Linked DNA regions of Homo sapiens: region 2 is linked to region 1. Evidence: fine-mapped QTL for protein levels in blood plasma. A gene starts in region 1. The other region holds a variant in brackets. All regions are shown on one strand. Distances are from middle to middle.

The links. PIP is the posterior inclusion probability: the model's chance that the variant is causal. Sun 2018 read protein levels with aptamers (SomaScan).
Region 2: its variant is fine-mapped to the plasma level of the ERAP1 protein (Sun 2018, PIP 0.95).

Annotation. Positions count from the first base shown.
Region 1 is chr5:96,800,092-96,815,941 of GRCh38, reverse strand. ERAP1 (endoplasmic reticulum aminopeptidase 1) reads left to right here and starts at 7,997. Exons shown (of 19, transcript NM_001040458.3): 1 at 7,997-8,082; 2 at 11,999-12,539; 3 at 14,942-15,080. The coding sequence starts at 12,016. It overlaps LOC124901033 (a long non-coding RNA gene), which reads right to left and starts at 8,484. Exons shown (of 3, transcript XR_007058879.1): 1 at 7,365-8,484; 2 at 3,928-4,114; 3 at 1-1,865. RefSeq lists enhancers at 7,317-7,386, 7,543-8,042, 8,043-8,544 and a silencer at 8,117-8,576.
Region 2 is chr5:96,772,293-96,783,586 of GRCh38, reverse strand. It overlaps ERAP1 (endoplasmic reticulum aminopeptidase 1), which reads left to right. Exons shown (of 19, transcript NM_001040458.3): 15 at 352-536; 16 at 1,733-1,894; 17 at 2,389-2,529; 18 at 3,083-3,164; 19 at 7,036-9,103. The coding sequence ends at 7,191. CAST (calpastatin) reads right to left here. Exons shown (of 32, transcript NM_001750.7): 32 at 8,904-10,947. Among named protein-coding and RNA genes, the nearest start is that of ERAP1, 30 kb to the left of the region's middle. RefSeq lists an enhancer at 2,016-3,215. The variant T/AT (reference allele first, on the strand shown) is at 3,179.

The DNA of each region.
Region 1 (15,850 bases):
ATCTTTCCATTTATCTATCCATCCATCCGTCTATCCACACATACATATATGTGTCTATTTATCTCTCAAGATTTACAGTATCAGAATTTTTCAGAGTGTGGCTCAGGAATCTTTTTTCTGTTAAGCAAGTTTCTTAAGCATTGTGATGTATTTTTTTGCTTCAATTTACTTATTGCATCTGTTAATAAATTACTGCTTACAAAAACAGTAAAGAAAAAAAAGAATTAAAAACACCTTAATGGCTGAGTGTGTCTGTAATCCCAGCACTTTGGGAGGCCGAGGTGGGTGGATAATTTGAGGTCAGGAGTTCAAGACCAGCCTGACCAACACGAAGAAACCCCATCTCTACTAAAAGTACAAAAATTAGCCGGATGTGGTGGCGCATGCCTGTAATCCCAGCTACTCAGGAGGCTGAGGCAGGAGAATCGCTTGAACATGGGAGGCAGAGGTTGCTGTGAGCCGAGATCACACCATTGCACTCCAGCCCGGGCAACAAGAGCAAAATCCCATCTCAAAAAAAAAAAAAATAAAAAACAAAACAAACAACAACAACAACAACAACACCTTAATAGTTTGGGTGTTTTATTTAGCAGTGCATTTACAAAGATCAAATTAGTGACATAAACTTTGAGTTTTCTATTTTCATCTTTTAGAATGGGAACAGTCAGAATGCTAAACTCACACAGATTTTATAAAAGTTTAGCAATCTACCACCAGGACTGGAAAACCAAGGGAAAAAACAAATCTAACACAATGCTACAGAAACAGAAAAGCCCAGAATTCTTGCTAATTTAACTGAAGTTTAATTTTGACATCTTTGGCTGATCCAACCACTCAGTCTTGGTCTCTTTCCCTTCTCTTATGGACAGGGAGTTAGGTAATAAAAATCAGCCAAAGATTCTCAAAGTTCTGCAGAGGTAGACATGGGCTGGTCTTGCTGCCAGAGCTGGTTAGTACTTTGGGTCTTTCTAGAATATTTGGTGTTAGGCCTAGATAACTCAGCTACATCTGTAGTGCTTCTCTGTGGCTGCTCAGTTTATAATTCAGGTCTTGCTCGGACCCCTAGTCCCAAGGACACCTTTTCCTTTGTCTTTCTGTTAAAAGTCTCTTCAACTTTGAGCTTCCATTGGGCCTATACTATTTTCTCTAGACTGTAAAGGCTCTTTCTACCTTTAATCATCTTCTTCACCGATGTTCAAATCCAGTTATCGGGGCTTGGTCTCTTTGTTGGTCAGGATGTCAGCTGCCTTCTTTCTCCTGAATTTGGCATCACTTCTGATGAGCATAAGCTAATTCATTTTTCCATCAGGAAAAAAGCTATCATTGATTTCTCATGAATATCTCTTATTTGGGAGATATTCCTATTTTCAGCTCAATGAAGAACCAAATCTTTCTAGTCTCTAGAATCTAGTCACTTCTGTAATTTCTTCCCAATTATCCACTCACCAGTTATTTTTTTGATATATGTCTCCTTCCCTGCCTCAAAAACACAGACTATGCCAATCCTAAGATTATAATAGTAGAAATATCTTCAATGTGCAGTAACATTAGTGTGGCAGACGTAATCTAAGTTGCCCCCATGATCCTTGCCTCCTGGTATTCATTCTCTTGCATAATTTCCTTTCTTTTAGTGTGAGAGAAACCTGTGACTTGCTTCTAACCCATAGGATATGGCAAGGAACTAGTCATATCTGAGAGCAGCCTCCAGAAAACAGTCAGCAAAACACTGAGGTTCTCAATCCGATAGTCAATGAGGAACGGAATGCTGGAACAATGATGTGAGCTTGGAAGCAGATCCTTCCCTTCTGCTGGGCCTCAGGTGAGACTGCAGCTCCAGTCATCATCTTGATTGCAGCCCACAGAAACTACCAACCCACAGAAACTGTGAGTTAATAAATGTGTTGTTTTAAGTTGATATGTTCGTATTATTGATACACAATAATAGATAACTAATAAAATTAACAATAAGAGACACTTTTCCTCCAAAGGAAGGAAATGGGCCATTTTCTTAGACAAGATAGTAAAAAGTGACAAGGAAAACTTCCTAAACAAATACCATAACAGTTGGATTCACTAAAAAAACATTATAACACGAGAACACATATTTGAAATGATTTAGCTCTTTATGGCTTGATCTGTAAGGCTATCTTTTAGAATTTCTTTTAGCTAGATATAACAGAATGCTAACTACAGTTTGTTAAACAAGTAAGGTAAGGTGTTTATCTTCCTCGTGTATGAAGATGCCTTATGCAGGCAGTCCAGGCTTTTTTTTTTTTTTTTTTTTTTTTTTTGAGATGAGTCTTGCTGTGTCGCCAGGCTGGAGTGCAGTGGCACAATCTTGGTTCACTGCAACCTCCGCCTCCTGGGTTCAAGGGATTCCCCTGCCTCAGCCTCCCAAGTAACTGGGACTACAGGCACGTACCACCACGCCAGGCTAAATTTTTGTATTTTAGTAGAGCTAGGGTTTCACCATGTTGGCCAGGACGGTCTCGATCTCCTGCCCTCATGATCTTCCTGCCTTGGCCTCCCAAAGTGCTGGGATTGCAGGCGTGAGCCACCGCGCCTGGCCTAGAGGTCATTTTAATTATTTCCCTAAACCTGCCTATTAGACTACTCTTAAAATTTTTCAAAGGCTTAGAGATTATCTTGCATTTTAAAATGTTTATGCCTAACCTGTTGCCCTTCTCTTCAATTTGATAGCTAGTATTTCTTTGTCTCAAAGGGCCTCTAAACACTTCATTTGTTCATCCTTTAGACAGCTTTGTAAATAAAACCAAGCATTCCTCCTATGGTCCAGACAGCTTCTTAAGGACAGATAAAGTCAGCATTCCTAAGCACCAGGGTAGCCAAGGGAGTGTTGTAGGTTTATAGGGGTAAGATAATGTCTCTTTCTTCCACTTCCCACCACTTAGTTCAAACCCATAAGTTTAAATGAGATAAGGAGAACTGTCTCTTAGGAAGGGTTGGGAAAGAAAAAAAAGAAAGGCTGTGGTGGCCTGAAGACCACTTGAGTCATTTCTTCCATAATCACAATCTAATTTTCCAATAAATTGCAAGCATTCCTAGAACCACAGACTTCACTTAAGCCAAACTCTGTCAATTTCACACTGCCATGTATGGATGAGCATAAATGAGTTTCTCTTTTCAGGCCCCAATTGTATATACTTTACAGAACTTCATTGAGAAAGTTATTCGTTTCTTTCCTTTTCTCCTTTGTATCATAGCTCATTTAATTTCAATATAATAAAATCCATTAACCTTCTAGAAACTAAGGTTTTGAAAAGTTATTTTTCCCATGTTTAGTTATTGCAACAGATATTCATTATAGCTAAGGCAAGACAGTTAGTAGCATAACACCATGGTCCCTCAAAAAATAACAATAAACAAATCTACATATTTTTCATCCCAATATTTTTATCATTCCTTTAGGCATATGCAAAGATCATGTTCACTCCTGGCTGGATAATTCATTCTTTCTTTGTGAAATAGCTGTGGCAGAGGGAGCCATAAATAAAATAAAGCCTCCTAAACAAAGGTTTGCTTTAATCTGTTCATATTGACAATATCTAGTAAATTCTGATATTTCAAACAACTCACCATAACGGGTATAGATCTGGGTTTTTAAGAAATTGACATGATTTATCCAGACACATTTGTGGGTTTTCTTTGAAATAGTAGAGCTTTACTGACTATGACACTTTGCATTTTAAAGAAATTTCATTGCTTTCTCTTGTGTGTCATAGATAATTTTTATATAACTGAATTGTGATTCTCCAGTAGATAAATGGACAAGAAACATAAACATATAATTCTCAAAAGAGAAAACACAAAGCAAAAACGGCTAATTAACATATGTTCAGTGCATATATTCAGTCTCATTAGTGATGAAAGAAATACAAATTTAAGAAATATGTCATGGTGACTTACCTCCTTGTTGACACGAGCAAAGGTAAAAGCAACAGGAATACAGAAGACTGGCTAGAGAGCAGTTAGATGGGCCTGTCACCTACTGAGGAAGGTTGGAGACAGGTGGATTCCCTGGGTTCTGTAAGGCTGCAAGAACTGGAAACATGCTCAGGTTACCTTAGACAGCAGTATCTTGTGAAATAAATGCCTGAGGGAGGGAAAATGGGAAACATGTGATCAGTCCTCGTGGCACCTAGAATGTTCTTCAGGATCCACAATTCTAGAAGTTCAAGGGCAGCTGTGGTCACTCAACTTGCTTGAGTTGTTCCTACAGAATCTGGCATACATTGCTCGCTCCCATAGTGCTCTGTTGTATGGTAATACAGGACTCTCTCTGAAGACTGACTCCAACTGGCTAAATCAAAAAGGAAAGCATTGGTCCTCTTGAATGGAAGGTCTAAGGACAGGATTTGCTCAGGACAGCTGGAGCTGAGGGCTTTAGTGGAGGTATTCTCTGTCTCTGTCAGCCCTGCTGTCCTTTGAACTGGCTTCACTTTAAAGCAGGCTTTTTCCATGTGGTGGCCCCTGGTAGGTCACTTCACATCTCTAATCCTGTTTCCTCATTCTAGAAAAATGGAGCTACTAGCCACCTGCATAAGTACAATGTGAGGATCCCATGAGATAGACTATATGTAAATGCTTTCAAGCTGCCACATTTCAGAGGACTTTATTATTTGATATGAGCTCAGTGGCCTGTTTTGGAACAGTCTTTAACATGGCATCTGTACCGTCTTCCCTGTTTCTGATTATTAATAAGATGGTATTGCTTTTGTTAAGCAAGCCTGCTCTGCAACTTGGCACAGAGGGGGAAAAAAGTCATCCTCTTTATCAAGAATATCAAGAATGAGGGGCATTATTATTTTTTTTTAAATTGGCATTTAAAAAAATTAAGTTCTAAGGCCCTGGGAGCCTATGGAAGAGTCTCAAGGACCACAATGTGTGTGGAAGGGCCGGATAGCAGTGGGCAAGGCTGACTGGGTGGAGCTGCCCTGTTTAATAAGAGCAGGCCTGCTTTTGTCTGTTTTCTACACCATGATTCTGGATGAGATTTTACATCAAAAAGGAGAGTGGTAATATGATTAAAATAGGAGCAGCTTTGGCAGCAAAACAGAAGAAATGAGCCAAACGCTGACATTAATTGACTAAAAGCTAATGAAAGCAGAACTGAATCAATCAATTACAGCAAAATTGAACATCACTTGACAATATCTAGAATTCAATATTTTTTAAGTAGATCAGTAATAGCTCAAAGTGGTATGTATTTCATTGGCCTAGGCCTGAAATTCTCCTCATTCCTCTGGCTCACCTCTGGGACTAAGGACACTGAGAAGCCTCTGCAATGGATGGGCTCAACCGGCCAACCAGCCCTCCTACACTATATGGTATACAATATTAGTGTTTACCAACCCCTCCTTGTTCTGGCCAATGCAATGTGAGTAGAATTAGTGTGTGTTTTCTCTTTGACTCTGAGCAAGTTGCCGACCTGTCTCATTTTTCTCATCTATAAAGCATAATATCTACATTACAGGGTTGCTGAAGAGATCAAATTATAAACACACACATGCACACATAGCTAGCATTTAACAGTATCTAACAGTTGGTAGGGAATCAATAAACCTAGGTACCCTTTCTCTCTGTTCCCTTCCTTCTAACCATTTCTAAGCTCGGTAATGTGCTGTTTTGATCTCACAGGCTCTAGAACTAGGACTCCTTAAAGTCCTTACTCCAAGGTCTGTGTCCTCTACATCCCTGCTAGGGCTTTGAAACTAGAAGTGAATGCTGCCAAATCCTCTGACTTATCGCTCTTTGTAGTGCACTTCAACTCTAAAGACGAAATCACGGCCAGGGCGACAGGCTAAAGTCTGAGTCAGGGTGAGCTTTTGGGGAAACGGCGTGGAGCGGGTGGTGGTGTCAGCTCTCTCCTCGCCTACACTTCAGCTCCTTTCTGCCCACATCCATTCAGGGCATTGCCCTGTTTGTCTCCTCAGCTGTCTTCTGTATTAACCTCCAGCCTGTTGGGTGCATTCAGTTCTGCCAGCTGGACTTTCAATATGTATTTAAAAAGACACATAAACAAAAAACAAAAACAAAAACAAAAAAACTTTACTAGAAGCCAAAGGAAAACCATCATATTCAAAAATATAAATATAAAAGCAAAGAAATGCATACATTTACTGGACAAAGAGGTCTCATCTTGAGTAAACTGGGAGCACTCCGAGATGTCTGGAGGTCTTGGAGGCTACACGCTATCCATTGATACCTCCTGTCAAATTCTGAACATGCAGAAATTACCAGATCTCAAAGTCCTCATTTCTTGTTGAATTTTAGTGAAAAAAACTTCCCTGGATCCCACCGTAGTTGAGTCTTGGAACAGGGTGTTAATCTTTATATTATAAAATGTCCTTGACTAGAGATAATAGGCAGTATGAAACATTATATTTTTAAAAAGGAAACATAATATTGAAAAAAAAAGAGAAATACTGTTGCAGTGACTTGGAATCCCCAGTTCTCAAAGGGAAGAAGGCCAATAAAGAAGTGGGAGAAGAAAGTCTGAGAACCGCATGAAAAGGGTCCTGTTCCCACTAGGACCATGGTCCACTCACCAAATTATCAGAGACGTTTGAACCAGAGCAACTCCATCTTGAATAGGAGCTGGGTAAAATAAGGCTGAGACCTACTGGGCTACACTCCCAGGAGGTTAGACATTCTAAGTCACAGAATGAGATAGAAGGTAGGCACAAGACACAGGTCATAAAGACCTTGCTGATAAAACAGGTTGCAGTAAGGAAGCTGGCCAAAACCCACCAAAACCAGGATGGCAATGAGAGTGTCCTCTGGTCGTCACTGCTACGGTCTCACCAGCTCCATGACAGTTTACAAATGCCACTGCAACGTCGGGAAGCTACCCTATATGGTCTAAAAAGGGGAGGCATGAATAATTTCCCCCGCTTAGCATATAATCAAGAAATAACCCTAAAAATGGACAACCAACAGCCCTTGGGGGTGCTCTGCCTATGAGTAGCCATTCTTTTATTCCTTTAGTTTCTTAATTACTTGCTTTCACTTTACTCCATGGACTCCCCTCAAATTCTTTCTTGCGCAAAATCCAAGAACCCTCTCTTGGGGTCTGGATCGGGACCCATTTTCGGTAATAAACTTGTAGCATTTGGTGTTTTAATGTTTGTGTTTTCTTGACTTGTTACCTCATTTAGCCTCAACTGTTTAAAGATGGTCTTTTTGGCCATTTTATTCAGCTTTAATTGTTCTAAGGGGAGTGAAGAAATGGTCATTTACTTTGAAAAATCAGAGGGAACGTGTTGATGCGGGAAGCAGCTAATCCTTGGGGTACAGTGGCCCTTGGTAGTGCAGGAAAGTCCTGGGGGCCACCTCTAACCCACCTTCCTCCTCTACAGCATCTCCCACTGTAGTCATTCTCTACCGAAGCCCCAGAAGGTGCGGCACTTTGCCACGACAGAGTACTGGGTTCATGTTTCTTTCCGAGGCGGGCCAAGAGCTCTCAGCCCACTGGCAGTGGCGAGATGACGGACACCCAGCGAGTCCAATGGGCGTCGAACGCGTCTAGGCTTGGTGGACTTGTCAGCGCCTGCCTGGCTTCGGTCCCCAACTTGAGCACCGGCCCTTTCCTGCATGCCCCTAACCCTCGCAACGCTAAACAGTGAAAAAAAAAAAAAGACAAAAACAAAAAGCATCTCAACACACACACACACACACACACACACACACACACACACACACACACACACACACACACACACACACACACACACGGATCCGCGTTCAGAAAGGCGTGCACTTCCTACGCCTGATCCCCCGCATCGCAACCTCGCAGCTTCCCCGGCGTGCAGCGCTCATTTACCAATTCCCTTCCTGGGAGTTGCGGCTTCCCTCGCTCGGCCCCACTCCCGTTTACCCTTTCCCCAGCTCCCGCCTTAGCCAGGGGCTTCCCCGCCTGCCGCTAGGGCTCGGGCCGAAGCGCCGCTCAGCGCCAGCCTGCCGCTCCCCGGGCTCCACTTTCACTTTCGGTCCTGGGGGAGCTAGGCCGGCGGCAGTGGTGGTGGCGGCGGCGCAAGGGTGAGGGCGGCCCCAGAACCCCAGGTACAGCGCGCTCGAGCCGCGGGTAGGGGACTGCGGGCCGGGAGGAGAGCGCGGCACCCGCCCCTTCCCTGCGCCCGTCAAGTGGGGGGCTGAGGGCCTGGGGCACGGGAGGAGGGAGACGGGGCACGGGAGGAGGGAGACGGGGCGCGGGAGGAAGGCGACGGGGCGCGGGAGGAAGGCGACGGGGCGCGAGACAGGGCGCGGGAAGGGCGGGGGGAGTCGCTGGCTAGGCCCGAGTCCGCGGGGTGCCCGGCGGGTTGGCGGCGGGCCCACCCCTGCCGGTCCCTGTCCCTGTCCCTCCGGGCGCGTGGCCGGTGCGCCTGCTTCACGGGTCTCCCCGCTGTTCGGCCGGCGGGAGCCTCCCTCAGCGCTCCGCCTGGCGCCTGGATGCCTGCCAGTCCTGCAGGCCACCGACGCCCGCGCGAGGCCAAAAGGCGGGGTGGGGCGGGCAGCTGGCTCGGGCTGAGGAGGGCACCTGCCCATAGCTGCTAGAGAAACCCAGAGGCTTTGGGTTAAAGACTCTGGTGGGGTGGGATGCGCGGGCCGTGTGTGTTCTTAAGGTCACTTCCCTCCCTGCTTCTCCTGTTCTTCTGGTCAGCAATTCTCTCTCTCCCCTTCGCTCTGGCTCTGGCTGGGTTTTATTCAGATAAAGCACCTCTGTTGACGCAAATTAAAAGTTTCCTATCTGGGTGCCTCACTGGCCAGGTGGTCCTACAAAGTTAATTCCATGAGGGGAAGGGGGAGAGCACACACTTCCTCACGCTTTTGGATTTCTTTGTGTAGGCTAGGTTCAGAAAGAAATTATCTGTTTCCTATTAAACACCCAGAGGATTCGCTCTGAACTCAGGACGTGGTCAACAATTAACAAAACAACAAAACAAAACAAAACAAAACAAAAAACTTGAAAATTGGGCACAGTTGTCTCTTGCCTGAGGATTTTTAATTAGTATAAGTAGCACATTTTCAGGTGCGGCCTGAATAGAAACATTCTAGTACTTTTTTTTTTTTCAAATTAATCCAGCATTTTTATTATTTACCAACAGTGCTTGTTAATTTCATTGTTCAGGAAATTCTGGAAGAACCTCAATTACTTCTTGATGATCTATTTCATATACTATAGTGCCCCAATAAAAGGAAGGGAGGCAGAGGTTGCAGTGAGCCAAGATCGCACCACTGCACTCCAGCCTGGGAGACAGAGCGAGACTCCGTCTCAAAAAAAAAAAAAAAAAAAAAAAAGAGGGATCTTGGTGAAGCTGAAAAAGCAGGGAGTTTATACTCACACAGATGTGGATTGCATTCCAACAAGTTGTGTGAACTTAGCAAAGTTACATGAATGGTTCTTTGCTTCAGTTACCCCACCTTGAATGAGAATAATAGGCTATTAGAGAGAGTGAGCATGTGTAAAGTGCCTGGCACTTTGGAGGAGCTTAGTAAATATTAGTTCTTTTTCCTCCTTGGCTTCTATTCCTTTAAGTGTTAGTGGAGTGTAACTTCAAAGAGAATTGTACTTCTCTTGGGAAGAGCTGCTTATATTGAGTAGACTACTGTTTTTGAGAGCTTTCTTTTTTTTTAACTGCCTCCCTTTCAGAAAATTGTTAGTAAAACCAGACCCTAGGAGACCAGCCAGAACCATGAAATGCCATGTTTCAAACTGGAACACTTACTATTGGAAGCAAAGCCAAACAAGAGCTAATTTTTCAGGGGAAGAGCCAAACACACGAACATGATCACAGAATCTTGGATGTAGCCTACAGTTTGGGATTAATAAGAGAATTTATTAGTGAAGCCCTTTATTCACTACATGGAGTTTTTACCAAGCCCCACTCATGCACTGCATCCTCGTTGAGACATAACTGTTTCTCTTTGGACCCCTCATGGACCCAACCCTGCAAAGCCTCTGATCCAAGGTCCCGGTACCAACCCCTTCCGCAGCACATCAGCCTTTCTGTCAGCTCATAACGAGTTGGAATTTCTAGATCTTCTCTGGGGCTGTTGGAGAGGTCTCGGGGACTTTCAGAGTCCTTACATGCTTGAACCTGCCACCTTCACAGAGTCCTCTGGATCCCGTCTTGGGGCAGGGGCGATGCTCATTAAGCTGTTGCTGCCAGTAATTCCATATGGAAAGCAAAACACAAGTTCCATTTACTCTCTAGTTCCCCAACTTCAAGGGCAAAAAAATGTTCTCCCTGTTCACACTTCCTGTCTCACCTGGGTGGTGCCTTTTGAACTGGGATTATGAGATTTCCAAGACTCTCTCTAATGTGTAGGTATCCTTTCTGTTTAGCCTCCAGATTGCTCCAGAGGTGAGGAGAAGGGAATTCCCTTGAGCTGTGCATTTGGGAAGGGAGCAAGGAAGTCAGGGGTTAGGGAAGGCACTTCAGCCATTGCCTTGAATTAGTATCCTATCACATAGAGTTGAAGGGGGAAAGCCAGGATTTGGCAAGGATGAGCTTTTCAACCTTGGCTTCTCAGTAAAATCTCTGGACAGTTTTTTTTTTTTTTAAAAAAAAAAACCAAAAACCAGAAATTAAACAATCCGTAAAACCATACCCCGATCTTATCACCATAGGTTCCAGTTTAATTGTTGTCAATAAGGACCCAGGCATCGAAAATTTTAAAAGCTTCCCAGGTTACATTAATATGCAGCCAGAGTTAGGAAACTTGACATCTCAGAGAGGGAGAATTCCATGTACTGTGAACACTTTGAGGGATCCACATTGTAAGCTTGCTACTTTTCCCAACTGGAACACGAGGAGTTTGGGCCAATCACTTGCATTCACCTGGTATGGGCCCCTCTTGGCAAACACCCATTAGAAAGGTGCGTTTGTATAAAAGAAATAAAAACTTATGTTTGATGCTTGGGGCATGGTTTGCCAACTTCCTTAAAATTCACATTGCCTTTTTTTTTTTTTTTTAAAGACAGAGTCTTGCTCTGTTGCCAGGCTGGAGTGCAGTGGTGCAATCTCAGCTCACTGCAACTCTGCCTCCCAGGTTCAAGCGATTCTCCTGCCTCAGCCTCCCAAGTAATTAGGACTACAGGTGCGCACCACCACACCCAGCTAATTTTTGTATTTTTAGTAGAGACGGGATTTCGCCATGTTGGCCAGGATGGTCTCAATCTGTTGACCTTGTGATCTGCCCACCTCATCCTCCCAAAGTGCTGGGATTACAGGCGTGAGCCACCATGCCTGGCCTGAAATTCACATTGCTTTTATGTCTTTAAAATCAATCCAGGTGATTGATACGTTTGCCACAAACTACTGGGAAAATTAAGCTCTTTAAGCTCTTCCTGGCTAAATAAATAGGTAATTAACTTTTGGCATGACAATTTGAGGAAGACACTGATGTTATTAAAGGTTACCATTACATATACTTACAGGGGAAGTGGAGACCTCGTTCTAGTGGTGGCTGCCACTGTGTCAGCATTTGATTTCCAGGGTACTAGGGTGACTTTCTCCAAGGTCCAGTGTCAGTGGGGAGTGGTGCTTGATCAGATGTTCCTCTGATATGGTTCTGGTTTTGCTTCTTTCATGAGCCTGGTTTCCCAAATGTCCTGCAACTCTGTGACCCGTGTAGTGAGCCACTCAGGATCCCCTAATGATTCCTTTTCTGCCTATATCAGCCAGAGCTTGTTCGGTTGCTTTCAACCAAGAACCCTGACAGGTAGAGTTAATTTAAACTTTGAACATCAAATGATGCTTTCTAGTACGTGTTAATGATTGTTGCTAACTGTAAACATCTTTCTTATATGAAACCATAACATAGGGAAGGTCCTTTTACTTTCAGGAAAAGACCTAGTACTTTTGGAAGTTTATGCCTATTTCTGTGAATGCTGGGTGGATACATTCTGAAATTATGCTGTGTCAATAACATTTTAATGACATATATTTTTGCTTTTGTACATTTGTGCCGCTAGGTAGGTAGAGCAAGAAGATGGTGTTTCTGCCCCTCAAATGGTCCCTTGCAACCATGTCATTTCTACTTTCCTCACTGTTGGCTCTCTTAACTGTGTCCACTCCTTCATGGTGTCAGAGCACTGAAGCATCTCCAAAACGTAGTGATGGGACACCATTTCCTTGGAATAAAATACGACTTCCTGAGTACGTCATCCCAGTTCATTATGATCTCTTGATCCATGCAAACCTTACCACGCTGACCTTCTGGGGAACCACGAAAGTAGAAATCACAGCCAGTCAGCCCACCAGCACCATCATCCTGCATAGTCACCACCTGCAGATATCTAGGGCCACCCTCAGGAAGGGAGCTGGAGAGAGGCTATCGGAAGAACCCCTGCAGGTCCTGGAACACCCCCGTCAGGAGCAAATTGCACTGCTGGCTCCCGAGCCCCTCCTTGTCGGGCTCCCGTACACAGTTGTCATTCACTATGCTGGCAATCTTTCGGAGACTTTCCACGGATTTTACAAAAGCACCTACAGAACCAAGGAAGGGGAACTGAGGTATTTTTTTTTCTCTTTTTCTTTTAAACTGCAAGTGCTGCCCACGCTAAATTCATTATTTCAGATTGATTGTCTTTTAAAATTCCCTTTGCTGTTGAACTTTTTCTTCAGTTTTGCTTTTGCATCTTCTTTATAGTGTTAAAAATGGCTTTTTCCCTTGCTTTTTAAATCTCATTTTAAAATTCTATTTTAACCAATTTTCTTTCCCCCAGCTCTATCAGAGTAAATATCTATTTGTTTATTTGGTTCGATTTCTGAGACATAATAAACATGTTTAATTTTCCTGAACTGTGTATTAGTTTCCTAGGGCTGTTGTAACAAAGTACCACAGACTGGGTAGCTATAAACAACAAAATGTATTCTCTCTCAGGTCTGGAGGCTAGAAGTCTGAAATCAAGGTGTCAGCAGGCCCGTGCTCCCTCCAGACTCTGGGTAGAATCCTTCCTTATATCTTCCTAGCATCTAGTGGTGGCCGTGGATCCCTGGTACTCCATGCCTAGCACCTGCGTCATTCTAGTTTCTCCCTCTGTTAGTCGCATGGCCATTCTATTTTCCTATGTCCCAGTCTCCATCTTCTTATAAGGAAACCAGACATACCAGATTAGGGCCCAGCCTGGTGGCCTCTTCTTCACTCCATGATACTTGTAAAGACCCTATGTCCAAATAAGGTCACATGCACAGATACTACAGGTTAGGACTTCAGCAAATCCTACTAGCAACATATTAGAGGAAATACTTTTATCTCAGTTAAAACTTTTTTAGAGATCTCTTCTCACCTTGCTTTGGTTCTGTTTTTAAGGAGGAGACTTATTTGGGGGAGATTTTATGCTCAGTTTTAAAATGGAATTTTATTTGTTGGTAGATTATACTAATTTATTTTTCAAATTCCATATTATTTTATCAAGGTAAGAAAGTAAAATTTATTTCACTCATAGCCCCCTGAACTGACCACTACTTCTATTTCACTGGAATATTCTGCCAGACTTCTTTCTGGATATGCATATATATTATTTTATATAAATAGAATTCTTATATTTTCTCTTTTACAAGGAAATTTTTTAACTTAATATGTTGGGAAGATGTTTTATATAAATGACTATTACTAGACATCTTTTTAATGATTTTATTAAAATACATAGTTGTACATTAATATCTTTAATCCCTCGGGAATGGAAATGAAATTGTTTCCAATTTTTCAGTATCAACAACACTTTGATGAGCATTTTTGTAAATTATTTCTTTAGAATAAATGCCTAGAAGTAAAATTGGTAAGCCAAAGAGCCTATAAATTTTTGATAAACTTTGTCATTTTTTCTTACCCCTCACCAATAGTGTATATTGGCAGTCTTTTTAGAGCAAAAAAGGTCCCCAAATAAATGATCTCTTTTTAATTTACGTAACTTTGATTAAGGAAGTTGAGCAGCTTTTGATATGTTTGTTAATGATTTATAGGTTCTTCTTTTATGAATTGCCTGTTAATGACCTTTGACTTTGCCTGAGATTCCCTTGGTTGTTGGGGATTTTTTTTTTTTTTTTTTTTTTTTTTTTGTCGAGACGGAGTCTTGCTCTGTCACCCAGGCTGGAGTGCAGTGGCGCGAACTCGGCTCACCGCAACCTCCGCCTCCCGGGTTCAAGCAATTCTCCTGCCTCAGCCTCCTGAGTAGCTGGGATTACAGACGCGCACCACCACACCCAGCTAATTTTTGTATTTTTAGTAGAGATGGGGTTTCACCATGTTGGCCAGGGTGGTCTCGAACTCCTGTCCTCGTGATCCGCCCGCCTAGGCCTCTCAAAGTGCCAAGATTACAGGTATGAGCCATTTTTAGGATTACATATTTTTAGGATCTCACTATCTGTTAAGGCTATTAAGTTTTCCTCACATACTTCTTAAATGAATTTTCCCTGTTTTTTACTTTTTCTTTTTAACTTTTTTTTTTTTCTTCCCGAGACAGGGTCTGGTTCTGTCGCCCAGGCTGGAGTGCAATGGCGCAATCTCAGGTCACTGAAACCTCTGCCTCCTGGGCTCAAACCATCGTCTCACCTCTGCCTCCCAAGTAGCTGGGACTACAGGCCTGCACCACCATGCCTGGCTAATTTTTGTATTTTTGGTAGAGATGGGGTTTTACCATGTTGCCCAGGTAGGTCTCACACTCCTGGGCTCAAGTAATCCTCCCACCTCAACCTCCCAAAAATGTGTTAGGATTACAGGCATGAGACACCATGACCATGCCCAGTGTAACTCGTCTTTTAACTTAGTTTATGATAGCTTTTGTCAGATGAAATATTTTTTAGTAGCAAAATCCATCAATCTTATAGTAACTTTAGGAATTAAAAAGCAAACACCTGTTTTAGAGTTCCTGGTGCTTCATGCTCAATTTTTATTTCACTTGCCTTAATTTTAGGATACTAGCATCAACACAATTTGAACCCACTGCAGCTAGAATGGCCTTTCCCTGCTTTGATGAACCTGCCTTCAAAGCAAGTTTCTCAATCAAAATTAGAAGAGAGCCAAGGCACCTAGCCATCTCCAATATGCCATTGGTGAGTCTGCACTCCTGTGTATTTTCTATAGGAAAATCTACTGATTCTCTGTGACTTGCACTAGCCCAGTGACAGTCAACATTGGGTCACCTGTTTTGTTTTATTGCCTGGCAGATCGTTACTAACTTTTCATTTATAACCTATGCTTTTGTTTCAAGCCATAGTTATATGTAATCAAAGTAAAAATTGCACCTAAAAATGCAAGATTTCAGTAACAGTGCCATTCCAGGTTATACATGCTGATAGGAGGGAAGTGGTATAAGAAATTCAGGTCAGGTTTAAATATTAGTGCCCTTCACAAAGCACTTTCACCCTCATTTTCTCATATGATCTTTTAAAATGATTTTAAAGGTAATGCTTTGTCAATAAGGCCATATTTTTAGCATACAGTTATTTTCTCTAAGTTACATATACTATATAGTAATATTCATTATATAATTTGTAACTGAATGTACAAAATTGGGCAGACAGAAAAAGAGAATAAAAGTAATCTTTTCCAAATATTATGGTGCTGAAGGTAAGTCATGATAGATAGCTTAGCTTCCAGAGGGAAACTATTATTCCCCAATCTCAATGCGGATGTGGACAGCATTCCCTCTGATTTTTAAAAGTGACTAGAAGATGACCATGCCAAATGAATAAAACTGTTCAGTAAGTGCCATCATCCTTTGATTCTGGTAGTTTAGAAAAGCATCAGCTGGGCCGTCATTCTGCAGCTGGTATATAACACCTCCTGGAAGCACATCCTTTGTTCAGAGAAACTCACTGGG
Region 2 (11,294 bases), 30 kb after region 1:
GAGGCACAAAATTGTTATGCTTGGCAAAATGTCCTGAAGTCTTGTTGCATAATTTGCTCTCAAAATTTAGTCATGTAAACTCTCTTTGAGTTTGTTTTAAAAGTCGCAATTCATCCTGACTTTAAGTAGATGGATATCTTATAAAAGTTTGTTATGAAAATATGAAAGTCATTCATCATTATTTATTGTTTTTGGCCCTTTTATAATTAAACAGTGCTGCATGATTTATACAGTAAAAGTTAGATTATGCTTTAAAAATTAGCCCCCATCATCTGAGACCATAATGGATTATATTAACATGAAATGACCTGTGACAATACTGGTCCCTGTTTCCCTGTACAACGCCCTCAGGCCTTCCTCATCAGGCTGCTAAGGGACCTCATTGATAAGCAGACATGGACAGACGAGGGCTCAGTCTCAGAGCGAATGCTGCGGAGTCAACTACTACTCCTCGCCTGTGTGCACAACTATCAGCCGTGCGTACAGAGGGCAGAAGGCTATTTCAGAAAGTGGAAGGAATCCAATGGAAACTTGAGGTCAGTCCTTACTAAATAACCAATTTGTTGATGTGAAGGGCATCTTTTCTGTTTTCCATCATTGGTACTAAACATTAGGGAAAACAAAAAGTTTAAGTGTCTCCCCTGCTGCCCTTTTCTGGAAAATAAATTGCTTTTTAAGATTTATCTATGTATCTCGTAACTTTAAGAAATGCTAGGAGGGAACTTCTATGCATAAAAGTCAAATATCTGGGGAGTTAGGATGGTATGGGAATAATTCTCATTTTGTATAGGCAATGCAAAATCTTATTAAACGGTGACAGCCATGCCATAGAGAAACACATGCATTGTATTTTATAGTAGTTTCTTTGGGCTTCCAAATTCCCTGACAGGGATGCATAGTAATTGCTGACACTGTCTAAGCAAGGTAGGATTTTACCGTATCTGGAAATCCCTATTCTTGCTACACTTCAGTCCTTTTTACATTTGGAGCTTAAACCCCACCCAGGAAACATTTATGCCAACAACCTACATGCTTCAGCTTAAAGAAATCCAAACAGTGGTCCTACTGCCGTCCTGACTTGTGATCATGGTGTAAATTTTGAATATAGTTTGAATTTCTTTTGGCTTGAAAGGTGATCCCCTATGGAGTCACCCAGCATCATTAAAGTATTTAAATATGTAGGTATTTATAAAAATGGCATTTCACATTTTTGAGAAGGCTACTTAAAACCTAATTTTAGATATTTTTCTCTTGCCTTTTTTTTATAAAGTGTAACTAGGCCAGGCGCGGTGGCTCACGCCTGTAATCCCAGCACTTTGGGAGGCTGAGGTGGGTGGATCACGAGGTCAGGGGATCAAGACCATCCTGGCTAAGACGGTGAAACCCCGTCTCTACTAAAATACAAAAAATGAGCCGGGCATGGTGGCGGGCGCCTGTAGTCCCAGCTACTCGGGAGGCTGAGGTAGGAGAATGGCGTGAACCCGGGAGGGCGGAGCTTGCAGGAACCGATATCGAGCCACGGCACTCCAGCCTGGGTGACAGAGCAAGACTCCGTCCTAAAAAAAAAAAAAAAAAAAATTGTAACTGAAGGAAATCAGTAGTTTTTGTTTATATTTCCAGGCATGCTTCTCTGATCATGGGGAAAGTTCAGCAGTTCATAGTTAGTCACCATTATGCCTCTAAACATACTTACTGCACCTCAGATTCTCACCGAGTGTGTTCCTTTCTATAGCCTGCCTGTCGACGTGACCTTGGCAGTGTTTGCTGTGGGGGCCCAGAGCACAGAAGGCTGGGATTTTCTTTATAGTAAATATCAGTTTTCTTTGTCCAGTACTGAGAAAAGCCAAATTGAATTTGCCCTCTGCAGAACCCAAAATAAGGAAAAGCTTCAATGGTGAGTCCGTCATTCATTCATGTTCATGTGGCCAAGGGAAATTAGATTAGATTAGATCATTCTGGCATCTATTTTTGTTTTCTTGGCCAGGAATTGCCTATCCTGCTGGGAACATACTGCAAGTCAGCACACATCTAATGAGAAAGGCAAATAATTAGGGAGAACCAGGTGTTAGGAAAAATATTTAAAGGTGTATACATTTGTGCATCTTTAAAATGACAACATATTAAAAATATTTACTAGAGCTACTCTTCCTTAACTATTCTTTTGAGCAAATGAGAGGGTATATGAGAATGGGTGTTATGAACACTATATAAATGTTAGTTTTTATTATGTAGCTATAGTGGGTTTATCAGGATTGTGGTTACCCATTTATCTTTTTAACCTTTGTTACTGGCAGACTTTTTTTTCTTTTACAAGTAATTTTATTGCAGTGATTCATAACTGTTTCATCACCTATTCATTGCTAACATTTCTTTTCTTAATCCTTCTAGGCTACTAGATGAAAGCTTTAAGGGAGATAAAATAAAAACTCAGGAGTTTCCACAAATTCTTACACTCATTGGCAGGAACCCAGTAGGATACCCACTGGCCTGGCAATTTCTGAGGAAAAACTGGAACAAACTTGTACAAAAGTAAGTGGTGCCAAAAATTGTGCTGTGACTGGATAAGTTCATAACCTTACTGTGTTTTAGCCTTGCTGTTTGTAAAAGAACAGTAACAGTCTAAAGGTACTTTTTGATTGAAGATAGGCAGTAGAAATACCTAAAATATTTGTAGAAAACATAAAACTGGACTTCAGTGCTAACTAGTGAATCTGGACAGGGATGTTTTCCATTCCATCTGGCATAACCCCTTCCTGAGCCCATGGACATATCTGAAGCCTTCCTCCTCACAGTTCAGCCCAGGCCTTCCATGAACACATTTGCTTGTTCACATCTGTCTTTGTCTAACTCTTATAGCATTTCCTGCTTCTGTCATTTTCTGTTGGATACTTAACCTTTTATTAGGCTGTTGGTGTGTATTATTCTTTACAGCTAGATCTTAACCCATTGGATAGACATCATATTTTGTATTTTTCACACCGATCAGTTTTTAGCTGAAAGCTATTATATATAGGAGGCCCTTAAAATATATGTTAAATGAATAAGTATTTCACAACCCGTTTTTGAATATTTCCCTCTCTAGGTTTGAACTTGGCTCATCTTCCATAGCCCACATGGTAATGGGTACAACAAATCAATTCTCCACAAGAACACGGCTTGAAGAGGTAAAAAAAAAAAA[T/AT]CTATATATATATTTTTAAACATAAATGAAAATTAGCTAATTAATATGGGGTAGACAAAATACTTTGAGGGTGTGGTGAGTTAGAAATGGATTGTCATTTAGAAGTTATTTTTGGATGCTATGGTGTTGACAGCAGCATAAATCAGTTGCAATTAAACTAGTGAAAACTGTGCCTCTTCTCAGACACGTTAAGAGGTCTTAGCTCTGCCAGTAAAAACCTTAGGACTTGAAGAAAATTACTTGAGACAATTAGTCCTTGTTTAAGGATGTTAAAAGTGGGCACTGAGGTATAAATGACTGAAGTGGTCATCCAGCTGTTGCTAAAGAGGCAGGTCCGGAATCTAGGTTCTTTATAAACCATCCAAGTTCATGGTTCCCTGTCACTTATTATGTAACCATCTACCTTCAGAAAGAATTTCAGGCAGCTTTAAGATCCATGTATAAAAGAAATGTTAAAATGAAGGACAAAAAGATACATAATGGACAGGTGATAACCATGTGAGGGACTTATGGCTGAGGATAATTCTCGCAATTGTCCCCTGAATTTATCACAGACATTCCTGGAAGTCAAGGAAAAATGAGGAATCAGTATGAGTTATTCTCATTGTCTGGTAAAAGAGAACATGAAGCATACACATTTTCTACAAAAGCAGACTTTTCTTCAGTCCTAAACTCGAGGACTTTGATGTGTGGGCCATTGAGTTCTGTGGTGTCCCTTCTATAATAAGGTTTCCTATAGTAAAGTTGTGGAACAAATTTTACAAGGCTCTTAAACTGTGGTACATTTAGATAAAAGCTGAGAGGCTAATATTAATTTTTTTAGGAGTGGTTCCATTGTGTAGTCTGGTTACACTATTTTCTAGCTTGAGATGGGGAGAGAGCTTTGGAAATGAAAAAGAATGAAGGGTTGTTACAGTCTCGTAGCTTTTTTCCAGTTTTCAGTAGCCTCATCCAGGCTTGTAAAATTAACTTGCATATAATAATTCAAGCTTGAACTCCAGCGAGGTCTAGAGCAGAGATACTCTGTCTGATGACTGAAGAGATGTCCAAAGCCTTGACCAGAAAGGTAGTCATCTATAGACAAGATCTATAGCAACAAAGCATTTCATTCATTCACTTGTATTCTCATTAATTCATTCAAGACATATATGCCACACATGGTTTTAGGTTATGGGGCTGTAACAGTGAACAGACAGACAAAACCTTTGCTGTCACGGAGCTGAAATTTCTGCTGTGGGAATCAGACAATTACAGACAAATCAACCAATGTCAAGTAGTTACATGCTCTGAAGATGAATAAGGCAAGGAGAGTGATTGGGATAGAGGGTTGGTGCTGTTTTATAGGATGATTAGGAGACATTTGAGAAGATATCGAAGGAAATGCCAACATCTAGAGGAGTATTGTGTGCAGAGGAAATATCAGGTGCGAAGATCCTGAAGCAGGGCATGAAAAGTAAAGAGCCCGAGATGTTATCATAATGGAGAGCAAACTACGGACATATAAAATACGGGAGTCATCCTGAATCCTTTCTTCCCCAGACATCTAACTACGCAAGTCCTGCCGGTCTTCCCTCAGCACATGCACTGGATCTTGCGCACTTCTCTCTGCTCTTACCCCCATTCAATCCTTTCTCATCTCTTGCCTTGCCTATTGCAATAGTGTCCTAACTGGCCTCCCCCTTGCCACTTTGCCAATAGCAAAACATTTTCCACATTGAAGACTGCAAGTCAGCCCATAACTGACCCTGGCTTCTTGAAACCCTGCCTATTGTTCTTGCAGTAAATTCCAAATCCCTCCTTCCCATGTGTCCATGACCTTGAAGACCTGGCTTCTGAGGACCTCTCTGGTGCCAATTCCCACAGGCGCTCCTGGCTTACTCTCTCATAACACTGTAGCCACTCAGCCTCCTTCTGCTCCTGGGCTACCACATGTTTCTCCTGTCTTTAAGCCTCTGCACTTTTTATTCTCTCTGCCTGGCTTGCCCATTCCCCAACTTTTCACTAGAAAGGGGCATTTTATCTTTGAGAGGTCTCGGCTCAGATCACCTTCCCCAAAACCATGCTGTTCAATGCAGGCCACATCTCCTCAGTTACTAGCATACCCCTGGCATATTTTCTTCATAGCAGTTTATTTACAGTAATCATATTTACTGCTTGTATACCCCAAAAGACTGTAAGCTCCATGAGGGGAGGATGCTTGCCTGATTCACTGCTGCATCCTCAGTGTCTAGCACAGTAATTACAGCAGAGGGATGAATAAATATCAGAGTAAATATTGGTGAACAAATGGATGAGGTTAAGTCCCTGATACATGCTGGGTTTGGGGCTTTGCACTTTACCTGCATTATATAACTACATCCTTCACCACTGCTCTTCATTTTACAAATGAGGAGACTGGCTTCCATAGAAGTTAAATCATTTGCTCAAATCAAGTTAGTAGGATAAACCTGTTTTCCTATCCCTGTATTGTGCTACTTATTGCACAGAAATTGTTCTTAAAGAGCCAAGTCTGAATCAAATATTCAGTGGAGATGTTGCATTTCCAAGGCAGGTGAAGACAGAAGAGATGATTTTGGGTCAGGACAAGGGTAAGAGTAATGGTTAACAGCTGGCTTCGCTGTTGTAGAAGGTCTGTTTTTAGTGGAGCTATCATGATGAGCTCCTTTAGGATTAATGATTTGAACAATTAGTAAAATTATTGATGTGCTTTGTTGAGTAGTGCTCAGTGATTTTTAATCGACTGTGAATTAATCTTGCATTCTGAGAGCGTATGAAACAGTAGGTTGAGCTACAACTTAAAGTAGAGAGTGAAGTGTTTTCCAGGTTGCTACAGCAGGAGGCCATGCCTTCTGCTCATTGTAAAGTTGCACTGTATTGACATATAATTTTAAAACAACTCTGCATCATTTAAAATTGAATTCTGATCTTTCTAAAACCCATTCCTACTCCCCTCTTTATTCCCAAACTAATAATATGGTATTATGACATGGATTTCTAAGGAACTGGCTGTCTGGAATCTATGCTGAATAAATAATACATCATGGTCTACATTCGCTTCCTGAATACCAAATCAAAAATTGATGGATTAATGCTGTGAAAATTTATGGGAAAAGGATAATAACCCTTTAAGGTGAAACAGAATCGCACAATGGTCAATCTTGTGGCAAAGCCAGCCTATCTGTCATGTGAGCTCAAGGGGTGAATTAAGATACCCACAAATGAAACAAGAACAAACATATTTTTCAGGAGGTAGCCAAGAGTTTCTTATCTCTTTAAAATCATGGGGAACTTTATGTGGATTTTATCTTGAGACAACAATACATGAATTGTAGATTAGGATAAAAAAAATGGCAAGGTTTGGGTCTTACCGCCATAACTTGCTAAGAATCCCATTCCCCACAGTGTTTCTATAATAACATACAAGGCCAGGCCCATGGAGAAAGACAGCACTTACGTGGTGGAAACTGTTTTGCTTGGCAAAGAAAAGACTCTGCACATTCTGCTTTTTAGATATCATGTTTTTAAAAAACGAAGTTTGCATCTGTGAGAACAGAACAGAATAACACATTAAATAGACACAATTAAACCTTAATTATAAAATGGTAAACAGTGAAGTCTTTTAAAGTCTGGCAACTGAGAATAAACAAAAGAACTGCAGACAAAAAACAGAACTTGACATCATGAGGCATGAGCTCATTTCATACAGCTTATGTGTACATAATCCTATTCAGACAGCTGGGACTGCCTTCTATATAGAATTTTGACAAATGCTGGAATTTTGGCTTCAGTTTTAACTAAAGTTACATCTGATTAATGTGATAAAATTAATTTTTTAAAACCCACTTTTTCCTCACAAGGTAAAAGGATTCTTCAGCTCTTTGAAAGAAAATGGTTCTCAGCTCCGTTGTGTCCAACAGACAATTGAAACCATTGAAGAAAACATCGGTTGGATGGATAAGAATTTTGATAAAATCAGAGTGTGGCTGCAAAGTGAAAAGCTTGAACGTATGTAAAAATTCCTCCCTTGCCAGGTTCCTGTTATCTCTAATCACCAACATTTTGTTGAGTGTATTTTCAAACTAGAGATGGCTGTTTTGGCTCCAACTGGAGATACTTTTTTCCCTTCAACTCATTTTTTGACTATCCCTGTGAAAAGAATAGCTGTTAGTTTTTCATGAATGGGCTATCGCTACCATGTGTTTTGTTCATCACAGGTGTTGCCCTGCAACGTAAACCCAAGTGTTGGGTTCCCTGCCACAGAAGAATAAAGTACCTTATTCTTCTCATTTTATAGTTTATGCTTAAGCACCCGTGTCCAAAACCCTGTACCCCATGTTTATCATTCATAAACTGTTTCATCAGTCTCCTCGAAAGACTCTGAATAGTCGACTACTGAACAATGAACACCTGGATCTGAGACTAAGCCGGACGATGACTGGGTTAAAGCTCTCCCGGCTCACCCCTCCAGACCCGCTGCCCATCCCTCTTCCTTGCTCCATGCCCAGGGGCTGACTTGTAAAGGCCAAGTCATCAAGCTTTCTTGCCCTTTGGATGTTGGTCAGTGGGGAGCCGGAGAGCTGGAGCTGGGGTCGGAGGAGGTAGTAGGTGGAGGTGTTCTTCCCTGATTCCCTTGCGGGATGCCTCGGGCTGGCCTCCCCTGAGGGTCTTAGCTCCGAGAGGGGACCCTCTTTTCCACACAGCCTTCTCCACCTCTGGATTTTGGTAACTGCTCCCTCCTCATCCCTTCAGGATTAGTGGCCTCAGTGGGAGTCTGGCTTTTACTAGTCCTGGCGGACTTGTGGTTTCTACATAATGTGCTCGCACTTTTGCAAAAAATCTTTTTATAGAACCCTCCTCAGATAATTCTGAGTGAGTGTCATCTATTTCCCTGACTGGTACAGTATCTCTTCTGAAAAAGCAGAGTGCATTCAAGTCTGTAGGAAAACCCTTTTCTTAGGGAGGTGATTTTTTTTCTCTCTCTGCTTCTTATTTGGCCTACTTTACAATTTCTAACTAACTAGTTATTGGCATTTACTGACAGTAAATTATTGCAGTCACCAATAAATGATAGTACATTGTGAAACAAAATATTTGCTCATATTAGCAAATAGGACATTCTTTGGCTTTGAAGTCTTTCTTTCTTTTGTGAAGACTTCACACACGGTTGCTTCAGCACACAGTTGCTGCTCAGGTTTTATGTATAGATGATAATAATAGAAAGCACAGTTTACTAACATGGTAAACCAACGGAGTTCAAGTCAAGTCAGTTAATACCCTAAGAATTAGATTTTATTTCTTATTCTGAAAACTTGCTACACAGGGACTTATCTAACCCATAGTGTGCTCTGTTGCTGACTTGATTCAAGTTGCAGCGTGTTTTGCGCTGACTCTAAGGTGCGGAAATCCTCACACCTGGCAAAGGAGAATTCAAACTGAACTTTTTGAATATAAGGCAAAAACTTCAAGATAAGGGAATATGATTGATGATTGGTACGAAAAATGTCAAAATGTGTTCCCCTAATACACGACAAAATAGAGTGACTTCTGGACATAAATCTGCCATTTATTAAACCATTCACTACAACAAATAAATAGGTATAAAAGTGGAATTGGAATTTTTATACTTATTTGTTGTAGTGAATGGTTTAATAAAAATAGAAATCACTGGTAATTTCCACCCCAAACTAAACTATTTCCCTTCTTTTAAAAAAATACACAACCAAGATTTTAATGTAAAATATTTTGCTTTAATTGTATTTTATGCCTTGATTAATGAAACATGGAAATATTGATTTTCAGTTTTGGTCACCTGAGGAACCTATCTTTGTTTGCTTTTGGAAAAGCCCATTTTCTAAACAGATACAATATTGCCACAACAATGTGCAGAAACCTTTTTGATAATAAAAAATTGTTCTTTGCCTCTAAGTGGATATTTGCAATTATTTTCTCTCTCCTAACTAGACTGTAAAAAGGGCTGCTTTAGATCCTGTAGCTTACTCCAGTTATTAGTTATTAACAAACACCCAAGTCTCGAAGATATTTCTAATTAAAAAAGAAGGCATATTCAGAGTTCTTTTTAAATAAATGTTGTTTACTTTTATAGGCATCTTTAAACTTCTGGATTTTGGTATGCCATTTAAAAATACTTCCAGATACACATGGAAATTAGTAATACTGAAGCCGTATCCTTGCAAACACATCTGTCAGTGTCAAAGGTTTCAAGGTTTTTCTTAAAAAAAGAAAACAAAAAAGCAAACACCTATACTGCCCAAATGGGAGGATTAGATACATGGTTAGAAATCCCTCAGGAAAAGTGTTTTTTCTTTTCTTGTTGCTGCCTTAAAAATAGAATAATGACTATTTCTGATGGATAGAGACATAGCATTTTAAGCTGGTGGTGTGTAAAATCCCATAGGTATGTGCATGACTTTCAGAGAGTATTTGGGGGGGAGGTTAACAAGATGTGGTGCCATTTATAAGCAGTGTTATTGTTTTTGCTTGCCCCGCTGCCACAAGTCAGCTAAGTCATAACAAAAGCTTCAAACTGATGCTAAGGAAGGCCATGCCCTTTGGAAACAATAAATTCCCAATCTGTTTTATGTTATGTACCTGACATCTTTTCCTGCATTCTCTACCAGGAAATAAAGATGAAATTAAATATCAAAATTCTAATCGATGATATCAGTGCAATGTTCAGGAACTATTCATTAAGATATTAGAAAACCATTCAAAGTGGTAGGACATCAGAGCCTACTTCTTACATTGCTGTGGGAGAAATGCAGGTTTCAAATTTAATATATATATATAATTTTTTTAAAAGCAGAAGTTTCTTTTTATATTTGGTAAACTTAAGTTCCATAAAGCCAGACGCTATACAGTGCAAAGGCTAATGTGGCAATAGCTCTAAAGACACAGTTGCTGCTCAGGTTTTATGTATAGATAATAGAAAGCACAGTTTACTAACACAGTAAACCAACAGAGTTCAAGTCAGATGAGTACCCTAAGAATTAATTAGATTTTATTTCTTATGCTCGAAATTTGCTACACAAGGACTTATCTAACCTTTATTTTGCTCTGTTGCTGACTTGATTCAAGTCTCAGTGTGTTCTGTGCTGACTGTAAGATGCAGAAGTCCTCACACCTGGCAAAGAAGAGTTCAAACTGAAAAGGGGTTTGGTGCTTCCTGGTTTGTCCAGGTTACCTGTTATTAATTTATTATTAGCAGCCCAAGAGGAGATATGTGCCCAATGTACAATATCTTATGTTTGACTTATAAACATTATCCCAAAGCAACATCAAATACAGTTCAAAAGCCCAAGAGGAAAGGGGGTAATAAGAAATCAGAACACTGAAGAATGTTTAAAACATTGTTTTCTAAACACTAACAAAAAAAATTAAGGGCAAACTGAAAATACAAATGAGATTTACAGGCACTGTGTGTAGAATGTGCAAAAATTCACTTAGCTTTTCTTTTGTTTTTTTGGTGTTGCTTTAAGAAACTTTATCAAATATATTTCTTACAAATATAAAGCTTTCTCTCCCAATTGAAGGCAATTAAAAAAATTCAAAGTTTATCAATACTCAGTACACAGGTGAACCAGTCAAATTCATTTTCTTTCTGGAAAAGAATAACAAACCAATATTTAGGATGTTCAGAGACTCAACAAAAACCATTCTAGAAATCACCCAGAACAATTGTTTTCTGTTGCCAAAGCCTTTTGTTCTTCAAAAGTCACCATCCACCAGCTGAAGATTTTACATGCAGATACCTTAAAAATTTCAAATAAAAAATGCAGTGAATCATTTAATATGTAATTTTCTTGTTACAGACATAGTAAATATACCACTTAGCAAAAGCATTGTATAACAGACAGAAGGAATTTCCTATAAGTAAACATGAAAGTGGATTAATAGAATTTTTTTTAATTTTGGGAAAAATGTTAGAGCAGTTCTACCTAATATAGCTCCTTTTTTCCTAGGAAATAAACATGGATCATGGTGAGAGAGCTGAACCCGATTTAACCTATACTTTGATTTCTTTTAGGCTTTGGTCAGTAAGTGCTTGTATGCTTTTAAGGCTTACATTAAGCCCTCTCCTTTCTGAAGATTAAGATAA